Linked DNA regions of Homo sapiens: regions 1 and 3 are each linked to region 2. The links come from fine-mapping of genetic effects on gene expression. A gene starts in region 2. Each other region holds a variant in brackets. All regions are shown on one strand. Distances are between the middles of the regions. Region 1 overlaps FRYL (FRY like transcription coactivator). Region 2 holds the start of CNGA1 (cyclic nucleotide gated channel subunit alpha 1). Region 3 overlaps TXK (TXK tyrosine kinase).

The links. PIP is the estimated chance that this variant, and not a neighbour inherited with it, causes the effect.
Region 1: its variant is fine-mapped to the expression of CNGA1 in synovium (Steinberg 2020, PIP 0.95).
Region 3: its variant is fine-mapped to the expression of CNGA1 in adrenal gland (GTEx, PIP above 0.99).

What each region holds. Positions count from the first base shown.
Region 1 is chr4:48,549,002-48,558,606 of GRCh38, forward strand. It overlaps FRYL (FRY like transcription coactivator), which reads right to left. Exons shown (of 64, transcript NM_015030.2): 34 at 8,452-8,711; 35 at 7,977-8,117; 36 at 4,214-4,382; 37 at 2,493-2,577; 38 at 1,591-1,703; 39 at 472-622. Among named protein-coding and RNA genes, the nearest start is that of ZAR1, 64 kb to the left of the region's middle. The variant G/GGT (reference allele first, on the strand shown) is at 3,243.
Region 2 is chr4:48,013,256-48,021,255 of GRCh38, forward strand. It overlaps CNGA1 (cyclic nucleotide gated channel subunit alpha 1), which reads right to left and starts at 3,426. Exons shown (of 11, transcript NM_001379270.1): 1 at 3,228-3,426. NIPAL1 (NIPA like domain containing 1) reads left to right here and starts at 3,517. Exons shown (of 6, transcript NM_207330.3): 1 at 3,517-3,630. The coding sequence starts at 3,585. RefSeq lists an enhancer at 3,107-3,608 and silencers at 3,373-3,702, 3,993-4,152.
Region 3 is chr4:48,065,811-48,076,754 of GRCh38, forward strand. TXK (TXK tyrosine kinase) reads right to left here. Exons shown (of 15, transcript NM_003328.3): 12 at 10,592-10,656; 13 at 8,125-8,243; 14 at 5,707-5,864; 15 at 583-1,895. The coding sequence ends at 1,827. Among named protein-coding and RNA genes, the nearest start is that of NIPAL1, 55 kb to the left of the region's middle. The variant G/C (reference allele first, on the strand shown) is at 5,473.

The DNA.
Region 1 (9,605 bases), 540 kb after region 2:
TTGAACTCAGGAGCCACATTTTCTTCATCTTTCAACCTTGAGACTTAGCACACTGCTTGCCACAGTAGGTGTTCAATACATGTTTGGTGCATTAATACATTTTGAAAGAATGCAGTAATTGCTCTATTGTGATTTTGCTAAGTAGAATTCAATTTAACTCGATGCAAAATAATAGTGCCTACCATAGGAAAGTCATATTTTTCAGATGTAGTAACTGGGTCCCAGAAAGGTCAAGTAACTATGCCAGACACCCAGAAAAGCAGCAGCAGAATTAGATTTAATAATATTAATTTTATAAAGTTAGAATTCTGAGTTTTTTAGATTTCTTAGAATCTAAACACATTGATCTGTGTTGCAGTATCTCCATAAAGAAGATTGCTTTCATTCTGTGTTGTCAGATAGCACAAAGAAAGCCGACAGTGTTCAGCAGCAACTTGGTGCATATGTAAAAGGAATGACGCTGTAGTCCACCTGTGAAGAGGTAATCCAGGTGATGACGTTTCAGGCACGTAATCCACCAGTGGTGACCAGCAGCCTCCAGCTGGTGGGAAGGGCAGTGGCTCTCCTTGGTTATGCTCCATCACTTTCAGTCGCCAATTAGAATAAAGTGGCATTGAATCACCTATCAAGATAAAATGATCTCATTTTCTACACCATCTAATTTCTGCCAATATAAGCAAACTCTAGTAAGATCCCAACTATTTATATAGTATTGGAAAGTGATAAAAAAAATTTCCCACTATTTCAACATGTTTGCTAGGAAAATCTAGGCACAAATATTATCAAATTAAGCAAACCAGGGAGAGGGAGAGAGAGAAAGAGATTAATTTAGGTTCCACCCTGTACGTCAAAGCAAAACTATATTAGCACTTCATCATGATTCCATCAATGATGTCCAAGCCAGGAGATCACATTATTGGTGAAGCTGCCTTGTAACAAAGGGCCTTCTGGTAAGTTATTCAGTTCTAAATATCCTGAGATAGGGCCAACACAGCTCCATCTTGAAAGGAACTCTGCTCTACCACAGTGGGGCTGCGGGGTGCAATAAAAAATGTCAGGAAATGTGAATTCTGTGTGACGTGGGTAAGTCACTTAACCTCTCTGGACCTCAGTTCCATCATGTGCAAAATGAGGAGATTGGACCAGATCATCTTCAGTGTCCCTTCCCAGTCTGAAAGCCTGTGCTTCTATGATACCCTGCCTTAACGTTATAGTGAAACTTGGGTAGATTATTCACTTTGCAATTGCCAAGGGAGAATCTTTTAAGGAAAAAGTGAATCCATGCAGAAGGAGCAATCCTGCTAAAAAAAATCAGCCTGTTTCCAGTATTTGTTCTATGATGCTTCCTGAGAACCAGTTCTTATGTTCCTTGTGATTTATCTATAGGAAACCAGTGCTTTAAAAAAAATTTCACCCAATTACGTTGCTTCTTAAAATCAAGATGTTTCAGATTATGTTGGAACACCACTAGTGGCAGTTAAATACGCTTTTTAAAAACAATTTACTGAAAATATATATTTATTAACATTAATGTAATTAACAATACACCTCACCCTTATAGTTATATTAAAAACATTTGGAATTTATTACTTTTTTCTTCTTCATAAGATCCTCCAGAGCTGCTACTGTATCGGGATTCTAGTCTGTGATGTTGCCGATTCAAATGACTGTTTAGTCCACTGTAAATGTCCAGGTGCACATAGCTATGGGAATGATCACTGAAGTTAGTCACAGTTCACGGTGCAATGGTATTTATACTTTATGTTTCACTTTCTCTGTTTAAAAAAGGAGGACGGACGCCATGGTTCAAGCCTGTAATCCCAGCACTTTGGGAGGCCAAGGCAGGAGGATCATGAGGTCAGGAGATCGAGACCATCCTGGCCAACATGGTGAAACCCCGTGTCTACTAAAATACCAAAAATTAGCCGAGCGTGGTGACGTGTGCCTGTAGTCCCAGCTACTCCGGAGGCTGAGGCAGGAGAATTGCTTGAACCTGGGAGGCAGAGGTTGAGCTGAGATTGCACCACTGCACTCCAGTCTGGCAACAGAGCGAGACTCCATCTCAATAAAAAAAAAAAAAGGACACAGTACACAAAATACTAACAAAAGTTTACTATGACGTACATTAATTTCCACCTTATAATCCAAAAGCTTAAACTTTTAATCAATTATTTCTACCTAAAATAATATTCTGGCATACAAAACAGGTGGAGTAAATACCATTTATATAGGTCTAAAACTTTAAGCAATACAAAAAGTGACTTACCATATACCACCTATTTATACATTAGAGCATATAAAAAAATCTAGCAGGCTAGCATCTTTAATGTTGAAACTCTCAATGTGGAAAGTTTCCAGCATGGAAATATATTTTTTTCACTCGAATTTTAACACAGCAACATCCACATTTCAATGCAGAAAATATCATTTATTCTGATGACAACCAGTATCTGTCAAACTGAAAGGCTAATACAGAACAGAGAAGTACTTACCTCTCTTCAATATTCTCTTTAATGGGCTTATTATCAGGATTGCCATCTGTGGGAGCTACCATTGTATTGCTACTGGAAGTAGTTCCTGTAATCAAAGACAAAGCAGTACTCGTGAATCTACAAACCTGGAATAACCCAATAAGAACAAAAGATCTCAAATTATAGATATCAAAACTTAACTAAAATGAGAGCAAAGTCATTTAAAAAAAGGAATGTACTCATAATGACCAAAAGGGAAAGGACATAAGACAAACAAATTTTTGGATGCTAGAATACAAATGGACAGTAAGTAATTAAGTGTTAAGAAGGCTGAATCCAAAGGTGGTGGTGGGTGAAAACCAAGAAGCTTCCATGTTTATATTGCTGAACTTCCAAAAGGTAGCATCGAGAACCTCTGGAAACAGGGGTTGAAGGTGGTGCGAAAAAATAGGAAACCTGGCTGAAAGTCAATCTATTTTAGAAGTAACTGGTTCCCCAAATCTACTTTCTTGCCTCTTGCAGCTGGGTGGCTGTCTTTCCCCACTTCTAGAAGTCTTTTCTGATGAGAGTAAATCAGAAGATTCCTGAACTAGGGCACGCCATGTACTCCTGAAAGAGGAGGCACCTTACAAAGAACAGGGGCATTAAATGAAAATGCACATGCTAAAATTTGAGACTGCACCCCCCCCAACATCCTTCTTACCCCACTGGGCTTCCAGAAAGTTTGAAGCCTGTGTATATGTGTGTGTATAAATATAAACAGTCCAAAGG[G/GGT]GTGTGTGTGTGTGTGTGTGTGTGTGTGTGTGTGTGTGTGTTCAGACACACCCTCTGCAGGCAAATGACTAGAAAGAGTTTTCTCTAGGGAATCTGATAAATCTAGGAGAAAAGACCTACAGACGTTGGCATCACTGAAATCATGGTACGACAAAGCACACAGACAACAAGTTCCATATATACTTATAGAACTTATATTTTTTTTAATATTCTACTCTTTATGAAAAGACAGATCTAGAATTGGTAGGCTTTTGAGAAAAGTTTTATCAACACAAAACAGCAATGTAGAGAAAATGAGGACTTCTGCTGGGAGAAAACTTTATAACTGTATTGGATACGAAACAACAGTCCAACTATGAAACATGAATAGGATGCTACTTTAAAAAATTATAATTAAATGAAACTTTAGAATTAAAAACATTCTAGCCGATATGAAAAATTCAATAGAAGCATTATTAGACATCTCCTGGAAAATAAAACAAAAGGACTAGGTGATGAAAATGGATGGTAAAAAATAAATTATAAAGAGATAATTTAAAATATTTCTAGTTTTACAGATAATGTTATTAGCATGCTGAAAACATTTAAAGTAAACTGAGTAACAAAGAGTTTAACAGAAATTTCATCTACAATAGCCTTTTTACTATTTTGAATTTCATTGGATGTTCTTCTATTAGGAACATAGTTTCTTCATACTCAAAATATTACAATAATTTTAATATATGCACATACATATAGGTGTGTATATATATATACATTTAAAGACACAATAAACTCTTGTTTAACAATTATGTTAAGCTTCTCTTTCAATACTGAGGAAGATTTGTTTTTTTCTTTTAATAAATTTTATTGTATATATCTGAGATTCATAACATGTTATGGGACATAGAGACCCTAAAATGGTTACCATAGTGAAGCAGATGAAGATGTCTATCATCTCACACAGCAATCGGTTTTAACAAATTTCTCACCTGAGGTGACAGAAGGGATTTTATAGCTGGAAGTGATGCGATAATACGGGGGATTATCCATGTGAGTGACCCCTGAACTGACAGGATCGGTCAGCTGAAGCTCACTCACCAGCTCTTCTAGCAACTGCATTGTTTTATCTCTACCTAAATATACAATGACCTTCTTCACCTGTCACAAAAGAAATCGTTCAGAAAAGAAAAAGCAAAGTTTTTATCTCATTAATTTCTCCTGAGACAAACTTTATCAGAGTAAGTTCAACTTTAAGTGGTAGATGAATAAACACAATCTAAATCAAAATTAGCACTGATCAACAATAAGACATTAATCAGCTTTATCAATACTGTCCTCCCTCTAACTCTCAGCATTAGATCTAATTAGGGTGAACTGAGTATGTTTAGCGGTTTAGTGGTTTCCACTTTATGCACTTTCTTTACTTTAAAAAAAAAAAAAAAAAAAAACAAAAAAATACTTTTCTGTAAAAATTTCTCTTTTAATGGAAACACAGGTAATAACATCCTAAGATTTTCCTCTGATTTTTAGTTAGCCAGCCTCCAAACCCAGGGTTTATCTTTTATTCCGCCTTCCCCATTCCCTATAGTCAACCAGAGTAGTCATTAAGAGCAAAGAACTAGAACTAAATTAGAACTCCAACTACATTGCCTGGTTTGGAATGTGGATATACCACTTACTAACTCTATCATTGGAAAGTTGCTCTCAGTTTTCTCATCTGCAAAATGGGGGTAGTAATAGCACCTACTTCATATAGCTATTAGGAAGATTAAATGAGTTAAGGTTTATAATGCACTTTAAAAATGGCTAGTAACACAGTATAAGTAGAAAAACTTTTCAGTAGTATATACATATGTTTTAGTAATGTATATTACTGAAATAACTTCATAACTGATCAGCCTATCTCTTTTTCTCCCTATTTTAATCCTTACTACTCAAAATGTGATCCTAGCAAGACAGGCATCATCATCTGGAGTTTGCTAGAAATAGAGAATCTCAGGCCCACCCCACCTCCAGAATCAGAATGATTCGTATTTTTACAGACATATGAAAAGCACTGCTTTATATGACCCCTGGATGAATCTTAAAACATGATTTATTATATCCCAACCAAATTCTTTTTTTTTTTTTTGAGACGGAGTCTCGCTCTGTCGCCCAGGCTAGAGTGCAGTGGCACCATCGTGGCTCACTGCCACCTCTGCCTCCCCGGTTCAAGCAATTCCCCCTGCGTCAGCCTCCGAGTAGGTGGGATTACAGGTGCCTGCCGCCACACCCAGATAATTTTCGTAGTTTTAGTACAGATGGGGTTTCATCATGTTGGCCAGGCTGGTCTCGAACTCCTGACCTCAGGTGATCCTCCTGCCTTGGCCTCCCAAAGTGCTGGGATTACAGGCGTGAGCCACAGCACCAGGCCAAAACTCTTATCATGGTTACCCAGTGATAACCTTCTAGGTATGGCTCTTTACTCCATCCAATGGGCACTACTTGCTAATTCTCTCTATTTTCAGGTTCGATCTCCTCTGAGCATGCTGTGTGCATTCCTGCCTTTGTGGGTTCCTTCCGCCTGACTGTGGATCTCCGAGTTGACACTCCCAACCCTAATCCTATCAAGTCTTCAAGCCCCATCCCCCACCTTAACTCTACTCCTTTCTCCAGGAAGCTTATACTGACTTCACCATCAGATCTGGGTTGGAATTCTAGATCTATTAAGTGACAAGAGTGAGAACTTGAGGAAATTACCGTTCTCTCTGCCCTGTTTTTTCCTCTGTAAAACTGCAGTGATCTCACCAAACTCATAGATTCTGAGATTTAAATAATGTGGATGAAGTGCTTTTACCATGCCTATAATAAGCACCCATAATAAGTGCTTAAAAAATAATAACCAATAAATTATTATTGACATTTAAAAAATGGCTCCTTTTAAATTCCTGGAAAATGGCTATTCCCCAAATTTTCATTTGGCCTCTTAAAAGTATAATCCCATGCTTTTTCTAGTACTGACTCTAACTCCCCCATTCGTTCATCCAATTAATGGGCACCTTCTATGTGCCAGGCACTACACTAAATGGAAATTTAGCAGTGAATCAAATAGACAAAAACTACCATTCTTAAGGAGCCTACAATCTACTGGTTGATGCAAAATTAATGAGGTAAATAGGTAAAATATATCATGTGTTTGGTGATGATTAAGTGCCAGAAAGATCAATGAAGAAGGGAAAGGAAATGGAGTGTGTGTGTGGAGGTGGTGCATTTGCAGTTTTAGACAGGATGGGCAGCAGAAGTCCCAGTGGGCACTGCCACCTGAAGGAGGACCTGAAAGAGGTGAGGAGTGAGTAACGTGGCTAACTGGGGAAGAGAAGGCAAGTGAGTGTGAGGGCCCCGAGGAGGGAATGCCTGGTGAGAGAGGTGGAAGCAAAGGGGGCCAGCGCAGCTGAAGGGTGGGAGCACCAGACAGAATATAGGAGACACAGTCAGAGAGGTAACGTGCGGTAACGTTGTCTTGTACCATACACCTACAGTTCTCTAAGCACTTCTCAAAGGCACTATGCCTGTGGTACACCTTGGCAATGATGCTTTCAGTGACCAAGTGAACTTGGGGAATGCTGAGTAAAGCAAAGCTATCAAGTGGTTTGTTTAAAATAGAATCTGTAGAACTTTTATTTATTTATTTATTTTTATTTTATTTTTGAGATGGAGTCTCACTCTGCTGCCCAGGCTGGAGTGCAGTGGTGCAATCTTGGCTCACTGCAACCTCTGCCTCCTGGGCTCAAGCAATTCTCCTGCCTCAGCCTCCTGAGTAGCTGGGATTACAGGCATGCGCCACCACACCCGGCTAATTTTTGGATTTTTAGTAGAGATGGTGTTTTACCATGTTGGCCAGGCTGGCCTCGGACTCCTGACCTCAGGTGATCCGCCTGCCTCGGCCTCCCAAAGTGCTGGAATTATAGGCATGAGCCACTGCGCCTGGCCTGTAAGAACTTTTAGATAACATTCTGTAGGACTAGTCTTCCGTGGACCACACTTTTGGGGGATGCTGCCACGGGATAGATATCTATATCTGCATCTACAAAGACATGTGAGCATGTGTGTCCATTTAACCCTCAGGTTTCATAGTTTCATATCAAATGTGTCCTCTTGACTTGGGCAGATCTGGATGTTCCTTTCTCCCCTGGAAGGCAAAGATGTTATCTTCTTCGTTTCATATCTCTTACCATGCTTTCCCTTGCTTCCAGCAGCCTGAAGGACAATCCTACGTGCACTGAGCTCACACTCACCATCCTGTTCTCATATCTAAATGCCAGCTCTGCCTAGCAGAAACTAGAAACATCCCCAGTGTGTGGTTTCAGCTTCAATATCACTTTCTCTCAAGTGTCATCTTGAATCCTTCCAGACAGCTGTGGTTCCTAGGTTTTTTACTCTCAGAACTCTGCAATTTTTTTATAGCCTTTATCACACTATACTTTATTAGCTTACTGATTTATTCATTAAATAAATCAGATGTAGCTTCAACAAATAAATTCTGTATTACCCATCAGATTGTAATACCCAGAAGAGCACCTGGCCTGTCATAATGATAGATAACATTTGCTAACTGAATCAGTGAATAAATCCATGTGCTATTTCCTGACTGTCTTCATCCCGGCCCTTGCCTTGCCTTGCCTCTCCTGGGCAACTGCTGCCCATACTCTGACATCACAAGATACTAGTAAATATATACATATATTTTAAAATTAAATGAACTTGAATACATACGTAAGGCAAGAGGCTTGGTTCGCTATTCACCCCACAAATGCTGATCAAAAAGTGCAAAATTATTTTCAGGTTTTTGGGCCAGCCATCTGCAAGTGTGGTCCACACATTCTCCACCTCCGACCAGGCCAGTTCATCGCCATACTAGATGCAATATGCACAAAAGATACTTCAGTCATGACTGCCTATTATAAAAACCAAACTTGTCATACCATGAAATATTAAAAAATGTTTTGTACAGATAGCTTTAATCGTTTCCACACTTTACAGAAACAATAATTTCTTCCAACAAATCTAAACATAAATATAATTAATCATATATGGTTTTAGTAAAAAAAATTCATATCTAATGAGTCTTTTTTAAAGAAAGATATTTGTTTGGTTATCACAGGATTATGGAACCTCTTCATCTGTTTCTAACCACATCTACTCACTCAATAATTCTGTGCAGCAATTATAAATACAAAACTCATTTTACCTTTGCTGTCATATACATCAGATTGTTCAAAACCATTGCAGTGGCTTGTGGAGATCCCCATCCTTCTCCCCGTAACCAGCGCCTACTAGTCACCATAAGTTCTCGGTCTTTTAAGGAATCATCTTCATCTTCATCATGTCGCCTTGCTGTGGGGAGAGGTTTTAAGTCCACCAGCTCGATGTTGTTCATCCATGGTAGCAGGTAGTGCAGCATCACCTGCCGCCCAGCAGGGTGAGCTGTCTGGATTCTCTGGCTTATCTCTGAAATTGAAAACAAGTCAAAGATAACTGATGTAATTTCAGCTTCCTCTGACCCGTAATTAATTCCAACAGATTTCAGAAGCCAGATTTTATTCATTTTACTCATTACACTTAACAATTATGAGTATTGTTTTTCCTTTTAGCAAATTTCACCTCAACGACATCATAAAATTAACAGCTAACATAAATCACATACATTTTATACAAAATACTTTTGGCAGTTAAAATAAATGTTTGTGCACTGTTGGTGGCATTGTAAAATGGTGCATACTTTCTGGGAAACAGTATGATGGTTCCTCAAAAAAATAAAAATAGAACTATCATATGATCCAGCAACCCCACTTCTGAGTATACATTGAAAAAAATTGAAAGCAGAAACTCAAACAAATATTTGTACATCCATGTTCATTAACAGCACAATTCACAATAGCCAAGAGGTAGGTGGAAGCAACCTAAATGTCCATTGACAGATGAATGAATAAACCAAATGTATATACATATAGTGGAATATTATGCACCCTTAAAAAAGGGAAAACAGGAAAGAAATCCTGTCATATGCCACAACGGGGCTGAAGCTTGATGACATTATGTTACCTGAAATAAGCCAATCACAAACAAAAATACAAATCAACATATATGTATGATTCCACATATATGGAGTACCTAAAGTAGTCAAATCCATAGAAACACAAAGTAGAATTCTGATTACCAGAGCTTGGGGGCAGAGGGAAAAGCAGGATTGTTGTTTAGTGGGTATAGACTTTTCAGTTCTGCAGGATGAAAAAGTTCTAGAGGTCTATTTCACAACAATGTGAATACACTAAACAATTCTGGAACTTAACTGCATACTTGAAAATGATTAAGATGGCAAATTTTATGCTTTTTTATCACAAT
Region 2 (8,000 bases):
GTTACCAAAATGTGAACCCCAAAAATTTGAGACAGGTCTCAGTGAATTTACAGTTTATTTTGCCAAGGTTGATAACACAACCCCATGACACAGCCTCAGGAGGTCCTGATGACATGTGCCCAAGGTGGTCAGAGCACAGTTGGGTTTTATACATTCTAGGGACACATGAGACATCAATCAACATATGCAAGATGAACATTGGTTCTGTCTGGAAAGACGGGACAACTCAAAGCAAAGGCAGGAATACTGGAACCAGGGACGGGGCTTTCCAGGTCATAGGTAGATAAGAGACAAATGGTTGCATTATTTTGAGTTTCTGACTAGCCTCTCCAAAGGAGGCGATCAGATATGTCAGTGAGCAGAGGTGTGAGTTTGAATAGAATGGGAGGCAGGTTGGCCCTAAGCAGTTCCAAGCTTCACTTTTCCCTTTAGCTTAGTGATTTGGGGGCTCCACTATTGATTTTCTTTCACAACTCAATAACCCAGGAATAATTAAGGGAAAGGCAAGATGGAGGATGAATTACTCAGCTTACTGTTAAAATTTTCTCAGTGATATAATTTTTGCAAAGGTGGTTTCTACTCCCCAGCTACCACCCCTCTTGTCTAGTCATCTTATTCCTTGCCCCAGAAACCACAGACCTCCCTACAATGTAGCAACTCAGGGGTTAACCTTGACACACCAGGAACCCTCCCAGACCTCCCCAAGCTCGAAAGACCTGTGGCCTTGTCCCTTGAGGCCCTAAGGCTCTACTAATCATTATTTATTTTGACCATCACCCCTGGGTCTAAGTGTCCTAGCACAAAGACCAATAAAACAGAAGTTGGCATTTTAGAGGGTCTCAGTTATTATCGCATTCTAATTTTTGAGTCAGAAGAGTAATTTTCCTAGAATCAAAGAATGGGCTAGTTGGAGATTTTTTTAATGCTCTTCTTTTAGTTAAACAAACAACATGATTTTGCGGGGGAATAAATATCCCCCAACTTTATGTCATTAAAGACAGTGTGTGGTACTATAACGGTATTCCCCAAAGTCATCTAGAAATTATCAATGAAGGAAAATACATATTATAAATTTCTGCTAGGCAACATTTAAACTGGAAAAGCAGTGGTCTTAAATGAGTTTAAATATTTTTTTTCTGAATTTTTTCTCTTTATTTTCAGAATTGAAAAGCAAGAACTACAACAAAATGCCTCTTACCTAAAGTAGACCTTAATATGCAACTGAAATTCAATAAAGATACATTTTTTAAAGTCTGTTTTGTTTTTTAATGTCCAATTACCAAATGGGTTAAGAGCACATACTTGAAGCCCAGCTTTCTTGGTTAGCATCTTGGTTCCACACTTACTGGTTATGTGTGCATAGGCCAGTTACTCAATCTTTGTGTGCCTCCATTTCCTCAGCTGTAAAGTGGGGGTAGTAGTATCTACCTTACAGGATTTTCATGAAGATTTATAAAGCAAATATTTACAAAGAGATTAGAATAGTGCTTGCCACATAGTAAATGCTATCCAAGTGTTTGTTAAATAAAAAATAAGCACCATAGATCACGTTTACCATCATTACTAATTTTTGATAAAGACAAAATTTTAAGTTGGAAATCCAAAGAAAACGTTTAAATAGAAGTCTAAGTTTTGGGCCGGGCTAGGTGGCTCACGCCTGTAATCCCAGCCCTTTGGGAGGCCGAGGTAGGCGGATCACGAGGTCAGGAGATTGAGAGCATGCTGGTTAACACGGTGAAACCCCATCTCTACTAAAAAAAAAAATACAAAAAATTAGCCGGGCGTGGTGGGGGGCGCCTGTAGTCCCAGCTACTCGGGAGGCTGAGGCAGGAGAATGGCGTGAACCCAGGAGGCGGAGCTTGCAGTGAGCCGAGATCGCGCCACTGCACTCCAGCCTGGGCGACAGAGCGAGACTCCGTCTCAAAAAAAACCAAACCAAGCCAAACAAACAAACAAGCAAACAAAAAGAAGTCTAAGTTTTAAGGCTTGTTATGGAAAATTGGCATAAATCTCCCTCGCTTTCAACTTTCACCTATTCCACTCTCCGTGGTGTTCCTTCTCTGCAAAGTCATCCATATGTATTATAAAAGTGGGTGCCTTGGACTGGTATGTTGACTAATTTGTTCTTAGCTCTTCTCTCATCCGCCTAAGAACAAGAAAAACAAGATTGAGGCCTCTGCTATGAAACTCTTAGGTAATAAAATTAATAGCACTGTTCATGCCTACTTAGAACAAAGGCTACCTGAGTACATGAGAATATTTTCCTCAGTGTTAAAATGCCAGAGCACAAAGGCACCCCAGTTCTCCCTGGTGAGGGTTTGAGCCCGAATTGTTCACTACCCCACCCCTCACCTTTTTTTTTCTTGAGACAGGGTCTCACTCTGTTGCCTGGACTAGAGTGCAGTGGTTCGATCATGTCTCACTGTAGCCTCCACCTCCTGGGCTCAAGTCATCCGTCCTCCCACCTCAGCCTCCTGAGTAGCTGAGACTACAGGAGTACACCACCACATCTGGCTAATTTTTGTAGAGACAGGGTTTCACCATGATGCCCAGGCTAGTCTCGAACTTGTGGACTCAAGAGAGCCACTCGCCTCAACCTCCCAAAGTGCTGTGATTACAGGGGTGAGCCACCCGCCAGCCCTGCCCACTCCTTGTTTTGTAAATACCTGCTATCAGGTCTTCCAACCTTGGTTTGGTTACTTAACCTCACTCTTTGCCTCTAATCCCTCATCTGTAAACTGAGCGTTAATAGACTGCTGTGAGATTTAATTAATACATAATGTGCCTGCATATGTATGGTATAACAAGGATATCATAAACATTAGTTATTAATAATTCGTGGAAATAAGTCTTTCCAGTTTTGGCATTGCTTTTCCCTTAAAGGTTTATTTCAAATACCCCTATGACCCAGAAAATGGGGCAGGGTAGGGGGAGTTGCCTGCTGGAGACAGAACGGAGAGTGGATGGATATAGCGGGCGTGGACGGACAGCGACAGAAGCTGATAACAGCACAGAAGGGCAAAGTCTGCTCAGCAGCCCCCAAAATAAACTTGAGCCTGGCAATCGGCGCAGAACCCCAGCAGTCAGCAGCTTCGGTGCAAAGCAACTAACACCTGAAGGCTTCCAAAAGCAGCAGGGCTCTCTCTAGCGGGGGAGCCTTTTCGACCAGAGAGGAGCCAGAAGGGGGCCTCAGTGCAGCCTCCACTCCACTCAATTCCCGGAGTTACCTTGGCGGGCTCCACGCTCCGAGAGACGCTGTTGCTCTATGAGGCGTGTCTGTGTTTCTCTAGTTCGCGGCTCCAGCAGTCGCGCCAAGGGGCAGCTGCTACTCCTGCCAGATACACCAGTTATCACAGGCCGCTCCCAGGCCTGCGGGGGCCCTGAGAATTCGCAACAAGCCCCGGGCAGCAGGGCTCGGCTGGCGCTGAGGCCCCGCCTGGCCATGCCCATTGGCGGAGGCTGCCCCGGGGGCGGGGTCAGGGCGCCCCATTCCCAGACCCCGCAGCCCCGCCCGCCGCGGGTGCGTGTGGAGAGGCCCAGGTGAGGAGCAAGCGCCCGCGTTCCGGAAGCCCGCTCCCGGGGCCATGGGGGCACAGGTGAGGCTGCCGCCCGGAGAGCCCTGCCGAGAAGGTTTGTGTCTGCCCTGAGCCGAGGGACCTGGCAGCTGGGTGGCGAAGAGACCGGGTGGGCGGTCCCCGGACACTTGCGGAGACTGGAAAGGGGGGCTGTACCGACTCTAAACGTAGTCGTTCACTCATTCATTCATTCAGTCAGTCGGCCGTCCAGCCAGGCGTTCAACACTTATTTATGGGTGCCTAGGCGATTCGGGCTGTGCTGGAAAACCTGAGTGGAATAAGGCAGGTGGGACTCCCACTCGATTCGCGAGGCCGACCAGTGTAAATTACCGCGTGCTGCGTGTGGGACGGGGAAACTCAGGATGCTATGGGAAGAATCCCGAGTCCCTCTGAGAAGGACGTTTCCTCTGACTCAGGCTCCCTTCCAGAGTCTGCGGCCGACGTCACCCGGTGGGCAGAGGGCGTGTCTGCCTGGGGGGCCCGTGGGAGTTCTGCGCTGCGCCCTGCGCTGGCTCCCGGGGATCGAGCACCGCGAGAGGTTGGGCGCCCGGGGCCGCGGGGGTGGGCGTTGGGCAAGTCTGGGCCGCCCACGTCTCTCCTCTTCCTTGGAAATGAAAAGGTCTCCAAACCCATGAGCCTGTCTGACTCGCTGTGCAGTCACTCTGGCTGCTTAAGGCGAGAGCCGTACTGGAGAGGAAACCTGGAACCGGGAGCACTCGTTTGCAGGCTCTTCTTACTGCTTCTCACCTGAGCCCCGTGAAATCTCTGGGCGAGGCTCCTTGCCCTTCGCCAAGTGTTCGCAACACTGGCGGGTTTTCTGCAGTCTCCATACAGAAGGCCCCGATAAAAGTAGGGAAGGGGGTAGGGGGAGCGACTGGAAGGATGTAGATACATTGAAATGATGGTTTTCGCCGTACCAAGGGGAAAGCAGCTTTTTAATTTACCTGATAATGCAGTAAAGGGGAAGGGAGGCAGTGAAAGGCATGGTAAGAACTACTATATATATACACATATATATATAGTTCCCTTACACATATATATATATATATATGTATATACATATACACCTTTGCAAAGGTGCTCGCAACTTCCCTAGTTTCCTCTCCTCTTGACTCTTCCAGCTTATTCCTTTTTAACAAGTGAGCTCGTCCAAACCATGCTAGCAAGGAAGAGAAGGGACACCAAAAAAAGGAGAAAAATGCCTGAACAATTCACAAGCTATTAAAAAAAATTTTTTAAGGCCGCTGGATCTAGAATTATTTTCTAGTCTTTTTTTCTGAAAAAGAGCAATAACGCCTGAACAACTCACAAACTATTAAAAAACAAAAATTTTAAGGCAGCTGAATCTAGAATTATTTCCTAGAGAGTCAGGTTGTGTGCCCTTTTTCTAAATAATTTCTAACCCAGCAAATCTGACAGTTACTAACACACCCACACTTGTTTACCCAAGGATCTGTAAGTAAGGAAGGTATATGAATTACACCCACTTGTTTGAGCTTCTGGATGTTTTTCCTGCTTTGCTTATGCATTGAGTTCCAACAAGAAACATTTAAGCTCCAGGCTTAATACCTGTGATTAACCATGGTAATTAATTGTGTGAAAAGCTGGTGAGAAAGACTTAGAAATCTGAATGCACGTTATTAGTAGTGGGAAGAGATTAGGCTTTGGCATCAGACAGTCTGAGCTGTAACTTAGCTTCCTTGAGCATTTTCCTGTCTATAAATTGGGGGTCATCCCTCCAGTTTACAGTTCTGAAGAGTAGGTGCAGGTGGGATTACATATGAACTACACCACTCAGAGCTTGACATGGAGTAAACAAAGACTCAATTTTTCACTTGTTCATTCAAATAACAAGAGTCCCATGTGCCAAGCACTGGCATAGGTGCTGGGATAGAGGGATCTGCAAGACAGTCTGGTCCCAGACTCTAGGACTAGGTTCCTGCTCTCAGGCACCTTACTGTTCAGATGGCAGCTACTATGCAAGAAACAAAGTAATTTAAAAGATCATTATAATAGCAGTAATGTATCAAGAGTGTTGGGATGTTTAGATTGGGTATTCAATGAAAGCCCCTTACGAAAGTGATATTCAAGCTGAGACCCAAATGACAAGGGGTCAGTCATGAGATCTGAAGATAGAACATTCCAGTTGAACTTCCATGAAGAAAAAGTTAATTTCATACTTTGGTTTTGACTTTTTTTTGTTTTTTTGAGGCGGAGTGCCACTCCGTCACCCAGGATGGCATGCAGTGGTGCAATTTCAGCTCACTGCAACTTCCACCTGGGTTCAAGCAATTCTCCTGCCTCAGCCTCTCAAGTAGCTGGGAATACAGGCACATGCCACCATGCCCAGCTAATTTTTGTATTTTTAATACGGGTTTCACTGTGTTGACCAGGCTGGTCTTGAACTCCTGACTTCAAGTGATACTCCTACCTTGGCATCCCAAAGTGCTGGGTTTACAGGCATGAGCCATCCCCCACCCCACATTGGTTTTGACTTTTAAAGCTATAGATGCTTCAAAAGAGTCTCTAATCCAAAATTATCTTTAAAAGAAACAAATGCAAATATGTATGAAGGTTGTTATAAAGCTGTAATTAAGCCATATGAGGAAGTCTATTTGATTGGGAACATATGATGGAAAGTGACTGAGAGGTTCCTTTAGATTGGGAAGGCAGGAAAGGCCTCTCTGAGTTGCTTAGTCCTCTCACTCAGAAGAAGCTAGCTATGCCAGCCAGCACTCTGTAACAGGCTCAGGAACAGCTGCTTTTTAAAAAGCTTAAGGTGAGAAGGAACTTATTCTATGAAAGGAACAGAAGAAAAGGCAATAGTAGGGAATGAGGTTAGGCAGCTGGAGACAGGATTCCACAGGGCCTTATAGGCTATAGTGGGAATTTTGGATTTTTTTCGGAATGAGAAGGGAAGCCCTTGTGGAGTTTTGGAAGGAGGAATGACAAGATCAGACCTACTTGTCTAAAGGTTCATTTCACCTGATCCTTCTCCCACCTACTCTTTAGCCACATCTCATACCATCTCCCTTTCTGTCACCCCAGGCAACCTGGCTGACTGCAGTTTCTTCAACCCCTCAGGGTTTCTGCTTTTAGACTTAGCAGAGAGGCTCTTTTGTTTAATCCTGTTTTAAAAAATATATTCCTTGATGCTGCTTTTACTACTTGCTATGGCACTCTTAACATACGTATAGTTATTTGTTTGTTAATCCTATCTGCCCCCACTGGAATATAAGAGAGCGGGACCATTGTTGTATTCATTTTTCTATCTCCAGATTCTAGAAAATGCCCAACAGGTAGTACACCATACATATTTGTTGAATGAAGGAAAAGAAGATTAGTGTTTCAGAGAGGGGTGAGAGGGAGAGTAATGCAATATGATGTCAGAGACGAGCCAGTTTCAGAGCATGAGAAGCTTTAAAGTTCAAAGTTAGTGAGGAGTTGAGATTTTGTTGTAAGTTGAGATGAAAAACCATGACAGGGGACAGGGAGTATTAAGCCAGGGAGTGATATAACCTACTTCCCACTGGTTAGCGTTTGGAGAATAAATTGTAACAGATATAAAGAGATTTCATTCAGTCATTCCCATGCTAATATGAATAGGCAGGTATATCACATATTCTTGCTTAGGTTTCTAGGTCAGCTGAAGGTTGACTGATCTAGATGGGGCTCACCTATATGTCTCTGCTTCAGGCTAATGTCCACCTGGGTTTGGCTCCTTCATGTGGGATGAGCTCAGATCTGCTCCATGTGTCTTCATTTGGGTGCAGAGGCTGAAGGGACAGCAGCTCCTCAGGGAATTACAGAGATGCAAATGAGTAAACCCAACCACATAAGCATCTTTGAAATCTAGCTTCATATCACTTCTGCTGACTTCCCATTGGCCACCAACTTACTTCCAGCCCAACATCAGGTGAAGCACCTTTGCCCACATTGGGAAAGGTAAGGGGCTGAATACTGAATGAATAATAATCCAAACTATCACAGTAGAATAGATGGTGAGACCCCCAACTGGAAATATCTTGCGGTGATTAAAAAGGTAGTTTTATACAATTATTGACTTTCTTAAAACCAGATTTCTATTCCATGTAATAAACTGGATAATTTAAATTATTATTTAAATTTATATTATTATTCTCTATAGGCAAATATTTGACAAATTATTTAAAGCATTTCATCCTTATATAAACATGAATAATAAATTTCAACTGGCTTTTTCTTGTACTTTATGTTTTTATTTTTCTGAAATAGAATGCTGGCTGGGAATTGGGTTACTTGGCCCTGGTTTTAGCAGTTACATAACTTTGGCCAGTGTCACTTAATATATTGGCATCAGTTTCTTTAAAATATCTCTCCTCTATCAGTGCCTATGAGTTTAGAACTGGTCCATCAGCAACATTTATGAGGCACCAGTATTGTAAG
Region 3 (10,944 bases), 54 kb after region 2:
CAGCCATATATTGATACTACATTATTTCCTATGTCATAATATTAACCTCCCTTCCATCTGCTTTTGCTGTTTAGTAGTCTCATGTCTTCTTGAGCTAGACTATCTTATGTAAATTCATGTTATGTGAATTGAGGTCTCAGTAATAACAGCCTTCTGTCTTTCCTCACCGTAACAGGAGTCATAGGAAAGGGGGTGTGATAGTCTCAGAAACAGCCTAGCATCTCATACAAACTTGTTTCTGTTTTTGAGACAGGGTCTCGCTCTATCACCCAGGCTGGAGTGCAGTGGCACAATCATGGCTCACTGCAGCCTTGATCTCCTGGGCTCCTGTCTCAGCCTCCCAAGTAGCTGGGACTACGTGCATGCATGCACCACTACACCTAGCTTTTTTTTTCTTTTTTCTTTTTTCTTGTAATAGAGATAGGATCTCACTTTGTTGCCCAGGCTGGTCTCAAACTGGGCTCAAGTTATCTTCCCACCTTGGCCTCCCAAAGTGCTGGGATTATAGGCATGAGCCACCACATTCAGCCCAAACATTTCTGAGACCACTACTTGAACTATCAAGTCTCCTCTTGTAACTGATTCTCATTAGAAATAATACACATTTATTGAATGTCATTGATATATAAAGATACCATTCTTTGAGTGGGGGAAATATAATTTAAAAGTCGCAACTACTGACAATCAACAAATAAACTCTAATGAGAATCATAAAGCTTGTTCCCAGAGAACCATGATACAGGGTGGGACAGTACGCAAATAATGGGCTCCTGTTGTCAGACTTCATGGTGATTACATTAGTGCTTTCTCCAGTATCTTTCTTCCTATTGTACTCCTGAAGCACTCAGAATGATAAAGATAAATTTCTGATCATTCCTACAAAGAGTGCAGGCAAAGTTAAGATTTAACTGTGATTGCTGGTTGTTTCATCTCGAATTCAAAATCCTGGATTTCCGAAACAATGGAGCTTGATGTCACATTTGGCTATCTTGCTTTTGTCTCCTCTTCTGGAAAGAACAAATCATCTTCCTGAAAATTACAGGAGACACTTAGTATGACAAAATAAGGCCTCTGAAACTGTCCAATCTCACATGTAAAAAGTGTAAAATCACAGAACTAAAATCAGGTTCCGGATTTTCCTGGAAATAGAATGTCACCGGGATCTGTTCAAAGGTGAGCTTTGGCTACATTTTATAACAGTGTTTAAAACTCGAATGCAAAAAACTGCTTTCAATATAATCAGATATGTGCAAAAACAATTTGTTAAATAACATGGGAAGATTATATTAACAAAAGACATTTCCAGAATACTAACATTCATGTGATTTATAAAGGTGCATTTTCTGTAAAGAGCTATACAGCCCAAAAACATGAAATTCTTCAAGGGAGTCCCCTTTATCCCATGAGTTGGAAGAATTTATTTTCATATTCTATGCATGGATCACTGAAGTGATGAATGTCACTCGTCTTCAAGAAGGAAGCACTCTCAGCCTTGTGAAGAAGAACCTCAAGGGTTCCTGGGGCTATGATCATGAAGAGCACCACAATGAAGACTGCTGCGAAGTCTTTTTCACTTCTTCACATTTGGGATGTGAAATATTTTACAGAAAAATAAGAGTGTGCAAATCCCTCTCACACATAGAAAAACGATTGTGTGAATATTCTTAAATTTTTAAAACTTTTAAAAACTGTGATCTTTGCACTGTTTTCAAGAGTCAGCAACTCTGAAGAAAGATATTCACCATAAGTGACCCCATATGGTGAAGATATTCACAATAAATGACAGTTTTGCAAGATGACTCTTTGGGTTGGCATTCTGTTTCCGGTCACCAGGTTTCCGCAATCTCTGTGACAGCCCGCAGCAGCTCGGCAAATGTAGGGCGGCCTTCAGGTTTCTGGAAAAGGGAAGTGGGGGTGGTTAGCTCAGCTTAACCAACTTATGCCAAGGGTTCCATTTTTGGAACGCTAAGCATGTGGGAGTCACTTATATCCCACTGCTCGAGGTCATCGCCAAGGTCTGATTTTTCACTCATGCAAAAATTCAAAAAATTGCCACCTGCGGCATAAATAGGCTAAGGATCACTCAGAGACCAGCTCTGGAACTTGCTGGCAGAGACCTGAATCCAGGCTGGCTCTTCACAAAAAGGAAGAGAAAGATATCTTGACTGACTGACATAGCACAGCATGATTGGCAGTTGAGTGAGGCGTGAATATGAAAATGTTAGAGAATGTTGCAAAAATAAAACGGCTAGACCTGCAAACACTAGCCACATGTGGCTATTTAAATTTAAATTCCTTAAGATTATATAAATGTTTAAATTCAGTTACTCAGTCGTGCTAGCCACTTTTCAAGAACCCAATAGCCAGAAGTGGCTGCCATATTGGGCAGCACAGATATAGAACGTTTCAGCATCTCAGAAAGTACTCTAGGACACCACGACCCTAGAGATATATTTGAATGACTTGACATGTGTGAGGTAAAGAAAGGGCTGGGAGAAGGGGCATCTAGCATACCAGGCTCCCAAGCTCAGTTCAGGGTATCTATGACACCTGAGCCATTATAGAAAGGAGGATTTCAGTCAGAAAGCAAAAGGCATGTTTTCATGAGGGACTTTGAAGGTCTTGGGGCACAGGTTGTGCTTTCAGTCTCAGTCAACAGAAAAATAAGAGTGTGGAAGTCCCTCTCACACATAGAAAAATGATTGCTGAATATTCTTACATTTTAAAAAGTTTTAAAAGCCTGTGATCTTTGCACAGTTTTTGAGTCAGCAACTCTAAAGGAAGATATTCACCATAAGTGACCCCATATCCCTGGTCATGGAGCCAAGGATTGGAGCATTTTTTCCTACTTCACTTAGGGGTGTGGTTTAGCTCTGATTCCAAGAGGAAGAAGAGATGGCACTGTCAGCATCTTTTAAAACCATGGGAAACAGAGCTACTCATAGTAGCCACATTCTCACAGGGGTCATTGACAGTAGGGTCAGCGGAAAGACACCCCTCTTCATGGCTTATAAACAGAGAGCATCAGTAAAATAAACAGAGCAGAAGACAGCACAAGTGCAAGTGAGGGTCCTTATTGAGACTCTGGGCATAAATTGTGGAGCTCTGTGAGGAGCCTGTTTCTGCGCATGAATCCTGAAATTTGTCTCTCAAAGATAGCATAATCACGTTTGACTCTAATGCCCTAAGCACATGGGGTAAAGCTGTAGGCAATATCAACTTTTGCACCTGACATAATGACTCACATCTGTAATCCCAGCACTTTGGGAGGCCAAGGTAGGAGGACTGCTTGAGGCCTGGGCAACAAAGTGAGACCCCATCTCTAGAAAAAATTTTAAAAAATTAGCTGGTCATGGTGGCACATCACTGTAGTCCCAGCTATTCAGGAGGCTGAGCTGGGCGGATTGCGTAAGCCCAGGAGGTCAAGGCTGCAGTGAGATGTGATTGTGCCACTGCACTGTAGTCTGGGAAACAGAGCAAGACTCTGTCTCAAAAATAAATCAATCTTTTCTTTTCTTTTTTTTTTTTTTTTTTTGAGACAGTCTGGCCCAGTCACCCAGGCTGGAGTGCAATGGTGGGATCTTGGCTCACTGCAACCTCTGCCTCCCAGGTTCAAACAATTCTCCTGCCTCAGCCTCCTGAGTAGCTGGGATTACAGGTGCCCGCCACCATGCCCAGCTAATTTTTTTGTATTTTTAGTAGAGACGGGGTTTCACCATGTTAGCCAGGCTGGTCTCGAACTCCCAGCCTCGTGATTCGCCCACCTCAGCCTCCCAAAGTGCTGGGATTACAAGCATGAGCCACCACACCCGGCCAAATCAACTTTTTCAAACAAATAAATCGACATAACCACACCATTGTATTAATCAATGTTCTGATTGCAATTTGAGACAAATGTTGTTTACATGGTCCTTCTGACAGCATCCTACTTATCACTTCCCTTCCTCCTTCTATGTCTCAGTTCCACTTACATATAACATCTCAATAAGCATTATATTACACACACACGTGTGTATTATTTCATACACAACATATACTTCTGAGCTACTTACATTGTTATTGCAAAGATGCTCCTAAAACGGCTGCTTATTACTACTCACTGAACATTTTTCTGAACATTTTTTTCTTACAGCTTGCTGAGCATTTTTCTATGTCTTTCAAGATTCCTTGTAAAGTAGTTAATATATGTAAAATATTTTCATACATTGGGGCTCTCTATAAATGTAATGCTTTTGGAATATGAATAACCACATCACTCTTAAAATATTCAATATTCTAGTGTTTGTGGATTGATAATCAAGTGCTTTATTTTTTCAGCCAGGAGGAAACTTCTCATCAAGCTGCAATTTCCAGCTGAAACTGTCAGCTGGAAAGAGACCAAAGCTCTCAAAATCAAAGGGAATTTCACTGAGAAGGGCAGGGGTGTGTTGAGTCAGTGCCCAGAGGTGGAAAAGAAGCCCCTCTGGCTTTATTTCTAAGCTTGGCATTTCAACAAATAGAAAAACTAAGTTCTGGAGAGATTTCTTCCTGAGTGGAAGTTCCTGACACACTTTCTGCCTCCATTCCTATTCTAGTTTAATCTGTAGCAGGAGTCCTGACTGCCAGAAGACAGATGAAACCCATTACTATTAGCGTTGGAAAAGCAAGACAAAGCAAAGTTGAGTGAAGTAAATGGAAACACCATCTTTCTTTTTCAACCTGGAAATTTAACAAGCCTGGTTCTACCCTTAGTTTCCACCATTAATTCTTTTATTTATTTGCTTATTTATTTATTTATTTATTTTTTGAGACAGAGTCTTGTTCTGTTGTCCAGGCTGGAGTGTAGTGGCGCAATCTCAGCTCACTGTAGCCTTTGCCTCCTGGGTTCGAGCAATTCTCCTATCTCCGCCTCCCAAGTAGCTGGAATTACAGGCATGCACCACCAGGCCTGGCTAATTTTTGTATTTTTAGTAGAGACAGGGTTTCACCATGTTGGCCAGGCTGGTCTCAAACTCCTGACCTCAAGTGATCTGGCCACCTCGGCCTCCCAAAGTGCTGGGGTTACAGGCGTGAGCCACCACACACAGCCTCCATCATTTAATTCTTTTTTTTTTTTTTTTTTTTTTTGAGATGGAGTCTCACTCTGTCGCCCAGGCTGGAGTGCAGTGGCGCCATCTCGGCTCACTGCAAGCTCCGCCTCCCAGGTTCAAGATTCTTCTCCTGCTTCAGCATCCCCAGTAGCTGGGATTACAGGCATGCACCACCACGCCCGGCTAATTTTTGTATTTTTAGTAGAGATGGGGTTTTACCACGTTGGCTGGGCTGGTCTCAAACTCCTGACCTCAGGTGATCCACCCGCCTCGGCCTCCCAAAGTGCTGAGATTACAGGCATGAGTCACTGCGCCCGGCCCATTAATTCTTAAAGCTAATAAAACATCTAATCACTGAGGCTTGAGTAACACCAAGAGTTTCTGCAAGAACCAATCTCAAACA[G/C]ATAAGACTCAGAAAATGCACTGAATTCCTCAGATAAAAGGCCATTGTTCAAAACAAAATGGATTCATGACTTTGTAGTGAGTTTGAGATAGTACTTCAGACTCTCAGGATCATGACCAAGACACAGATGCCTTTTCCTGCCATGACAGAGTTCTGAAGTAATGTTTGTGATAATCAGGTCTGCTCTCAGATGCTGGGACTGCCAACCTTCATAGGAAAGTAACATATGCTTACCTCATGCCAGCAGCTGTACATGACTTCATATATGGACATTGGTGCCAGGTGAGGGCGATATAGCCTGAAGCCTTCAGAAATAGCTTCCACGACTTGCAAATTTGACTTATTTTCAAAAGGCATTTTTCCTTCTGTAAAAACTTCCCACATTAAAACTCCTGCAAACAAAAATGCAGGAAAACAAGGGGTTAGAGAGAAATGATTGCTTGGGAACTGAAAGAACAATTTCAAACTACAAGGCATTATTTTTGTGCTCCAGGCTTTGGGCTATAACCATCCTGAATAACAGCGGTTCTGTCAAGGAAGCAAATCATGTTCACTTTAGTTTTCAAAGAGGCCTGTAACCTGAAAATAATCTAAGTGAAAACAATGCCTTTCCTTGTCCATGGGTCTTGATTGCCTCTCCTATCAGGAGAAAATGCCAGTAGCATTTTCTTTTCTTTTTTTTTTTTTTTGAGACAGGGTCTCGCTCTGTCGCCCGGGCTGGAGTGCAGTGGCATGATCTCAGCTCACTGCAACCTCTGTCTACCGGGCTGGAGTGCAGTGGCATGATCTCAGCTCACTGCAACCTCTGTCTCCCGGGTTCAAGCAATTCTTCTGCTTCAGCCTCCTGAGTTGCTGGGATTATAGGTGCCCACCACCACGCCCAACTAATTTTTCTATTTTTAGTAGAGGCGGGGTTTCACCATGTTGGCCAGGCTGGTCTCGAGCTCTGACCTCAGGTGATTCGACCACCTCAGCCTCCCAAAGTGCTGGAATTACAAACGTAAGCCATCACGCCCGGCCTAGCATTTTCATTTCTAAGCAGCAGTCACGTTCCTGCATCCTGAAATCAATGAACCTTTCTGCCATTCCATAGAAACTGACAGGATTATGTGAGCCTCTGCTGCCTACTTAGCCAAGAGTTTCAGCCAGTAAATGGCATGTGTCCCCTTCTTTCTGCTAAAAGATTAGACTGATGGGCAGAGCCCCAGAATATCTAGCAGGGGCTCTGTACATAAGTAGATGTCCAATAATCATTGATTGATTGATTAGTGAAACTCCTGCAAGAACTCCTAATTTGAGTTCATTTAATTATTCACTTATTCTACAAATATTTACTAGACATTGATGAGAGGCGAGGCCTCTGCTGGGGCCTGGAGATTTTATAAGTGTGAGATCAATCCATGTGCCTAAGGAGCTCACTGTTCAGTGAGGGAGACAAGTAGGTAAAATTCAGGGAGTTCTAATTGTTTGGCAACCTTCGATGAGGTCGTTATATTGCTCTTCATTGGTCTCTAAGATGTGGTCTCACAACCTAATTGCTCTTCAGTAGAGCTTCAAGTGTCACCTGCTGAGACTATCATATGTCCATGGAGAGCTAATGAGATTAATGACACAAGCTTAACTTTATTGTATGTTTTTAAATTTATGTTTTAATTTTTTTGAGGCAGGGTCTTGCTCTGTCATCCAGGCTGGAGTACAGTGGCACGATCCTAGCTTACTATAACCTCAAACTCCTGGGCTCAAGCAATCCTCCTGCCTCAGCCTCCCGAGGAACTGGGACTACAGGTATATGCCACCACACCTGGCTAATTTTTTTTTTTTTTTTGTAAAGACAGAGTCTTGCTAGGTTGCCCAGGCTAGTCTTGAACTCCTGGTCTCAAACAATCCTCCCACTTCAGCCTCCCAAAGTGCTGGAATTGTAGGCCTGAGCCACTGTGCCCAGTTTTAACCTTATTGTAGACAATAAAACTGACACCCTTCTGAGGACCCAGAACCCACAAGCCTCCAGGAAGTTTGGGGTGAAAGAGGATAGATAGATTTTTGCATATTTATTACCATTTTTTGAAAATCAACCCCGAAACTTCATTGGACGTGGGTCTATGGTGTCTCTTTCTCAATGAAGAACATTATCCAATATGAATATCAATTTATAGATCCCAAGGAAGCCTATGTCTAAATTCCACAAACTTTAAAGTTAAGGAAGTAAATGAGATGCCACCATTTTTTAAACTCAGGTTTTAAGTTCAGGTTAACAACTGAACAACTGGAAAATAGTCAACCTGCTTCACAGTTTAGACAATTAAGTTTATTAATTACACTCTAAACAATGTCATAAGATCATTTTTCCTTCAAGCCTCTGCGGAGTGGAAAACTTATCTGAGTTTGTTTTCTAGATCAGTAGACTCTTTGTTATGGTTTTATAGTGAGTGCCCATGGAGGAAGGAAAAGATCCAAAAGGCAGACTTATGTAAGAAGGTATGTGACACCAGTTGCCAAAGACAGTCGGGATGTGGTTAGAACACACAGAAGGAAGCACAATTACAAGAAGACTTTTTAAAAAATGCTATATCAATTAGGAAATCAAAGTTAAAAATAACACATTGCCCATTTTATTAAATCAAGCTCCAGCAAGTGAACATCAGATGCACTCACCAAATGACCAGACATCAGATTTACTGCTGTACTTATTGAAAAGAAAAACTTCAGGAGGGGACCACTTGATTGGGAACTTGGCTCCAAAAGAACTGACATACTCATCATCCAAAACGTACCTAAGTTTATCAGATTCAAAGCATATTGTGTTAATTACCTCCAAGCTCTATTTACTTCAAATCCCTTTAGTTAACTCTAAGTTGCTAAAAGACAAAGTATTTTACCCCAGAAAGGTTGTGGATGCCTTCTTGTTAGTAGAGTGTGAAAGTGTCCCTGATAATGTTTCCTCCCCAAACAAAGTCTCAATTGTATTTGTTTTACGTGGACCTCTGAAAATCATAATGCTGCTTCAGTTCAAAACATGGCTCACTGTTTATGTTAATTATGGTAAATTCTTAACTCTACAAAGAAGCCTGCTAAAGGCTCTAACAACCAAGATTATAAAAAGGAAATAAAAGACCACTCTTCCCAGGGGTGGGGAAAACAAAGACCACTCTTCTTAAAATGGAAATGAATGATTCAAAGTTGGATGTCGAATTTTCTTCCATGTGCATGTTTTTTTGTGGGGCATACAGAAGGGGGGAAAGTAAAAGTATATGAACATAATGCTTCTGATATGACAAATCTCTAATGCACTAGAATGGCCCTATATGGAAAGAAACCAAGAATAACTACCGTCTCCTTAAAAAAATAACAAGTTGAACCCTCTCTCTTTTTTGAGAATTGTACACCGGGATGTCCAAATGTCAGACACTGAGGAGAAGAGACAAAAATAAACTTGTGCTTGTTGCCCCTTAAATATACAATATAGTGTTTTCACAGCATTTATTAATGCTGCCCCTATACTCTCACTTTTTTTTTAAATACACTACCTCCCTCCACCTGTCAGCACTTTATTGAGTCAGAGGTCATTCTACTTAGGTAAAGAATGACTAACAGAAAACAAAGAGAGAAAAGCCACTGTTTATAGATTTTGAATTTTTCAAGTCTAGGCTCTTCAGAGAAGAAAGATTGAGTTATTAACAAAATATCTTGGAAAATGGGCCATGAACAGGAGTGAGATCTCACTACCACCACCCCTATTACCACCACTATCTAGAAAAAGATCCCCTGAGCTTTGGGGGGATCTTTTTCCCCCAAAAAGAGGAATGGGGGAAATAGAAGGGAAAGAAAAGGGGGGTACTAGACATTAGTAGATCAGTGGGTTAGGGTCCTGTATCTTGTACCCTAAAGGGCTGCCCAAGTACTTTAGGAAAGAAGCTCCTACTCCCACATTAGGTTGGTGGGATTTAAAAGTGACACAGAACCAGTGCTCTTTTCCCCAGGTGGAGCCCTTGGAAAGGCAGAAAGATGCCAGTGAACAAATGGCTGTGGATGTGCCTAGGTAAATGAGATCTGAGATCACACCATGGAGTTTTGTAATCATAAAGAACGCCGGCCAGGTGAGACTGCTCACACCTGTAATCACAGCACTTTTGGAGGTGAGGTGGGTGGATATTTGATGTCAGGAGTTCAAGACCAGCCTGGCCAACATGGTGAAACCCCGCCTCTACCAAAAATAAAAAATTAGCTGGGCGTGGTGGCATGTGCCTGTAGTTCCAGCTACTCGGGGGGCTGAGGCAGGAGGATAGCTTGAGCCTGGGAGGTCGAGGCTGCAGTGAGCCGAGAGAGCACCACTGCACTCCAGCCTGGGTGACAGAGTAAGACTCTGTCGAAAAAAAAAATTGCCAGTTCTGAATGAATCTTGCAGAAAAAATTCAGTACGTGTTAGCAGCTACCTGTTTGAATGGCCAGCCAAAGACAAGACCGGAGGATGGTGGCTGCAATGATGCCATGCACACAGATAACAAAAGGACCAGTAAGCCACCTCACTACCAGTACTATAGCCCCACGAGACACAAGAACTTGGACTTTGAAGCTTAGGGAAGCTAGAGAGAAACCCCAAATTCCCTGTGATTATATTTCTAGCACCACCCCAAAAAAGGATGCTCAAAATTTAAACTATATTGAGTTGTAGAAAAATATGGTTAAATTTTTCACACTCTTGAATTTTAGACTTAAAGTCAACTACTATACTTAATAATAGAAATGTTTGGTGAGGACACAGAAAAATCAGAGCTGAGCAAACAAATTTATTTCTTTTTCTTCCATAAACATATGTATATCAGGAATGCTTTTTTCTTCACGTTTCTCAGTGTATCAAGAAATTCCTTTTTTAATTTTAAGATATACCATAGTTTTGCTAAAAGATGAGAAGAATAGCCCACAGTAAACATTTACCTCACAGCTAAAATTGGTACATGTCCCAAAATTCAAAGTGGGTCAGTAGGCCATACAACCAGGCCTACAACCTAGGAAGATAAAAACACAGCCTGCAGCATCTTCAGTTTATCAGTAAACAAATGTAAGATTCCCTCTTATGAGTAAACAAACAAACAAAATACATATATATATACATAGCATGTACCTTGTCATTCCAAAGTCTGAAATTTTTACTATGCATGTTGAACTGACCAAACAATTCCTTGCCGCCTATGGAAAGAAGAAAAGAATCCAAGTTTGAATACAAGCTTTTATTTCAAGAGTTTTTCCTCTCCTTTTCCTTAGGTTATTTGGACCCCACACTACCTCTCTGTGTGTACCGCCAAGTCATTTTTATGGTGATATCCATCAATGGTATAGATTCAATAGTTTGCCTTCACTTTTTTTTTTGAGACAGGATCTGGCTCTGTTGCCCAGGCTGGAGTGCAATGGCACCATGTTGGCTCACTGCAACCTTCCCCTCCTGGGGTCAAACCATCCTCCCACCTTAGCCTCTTA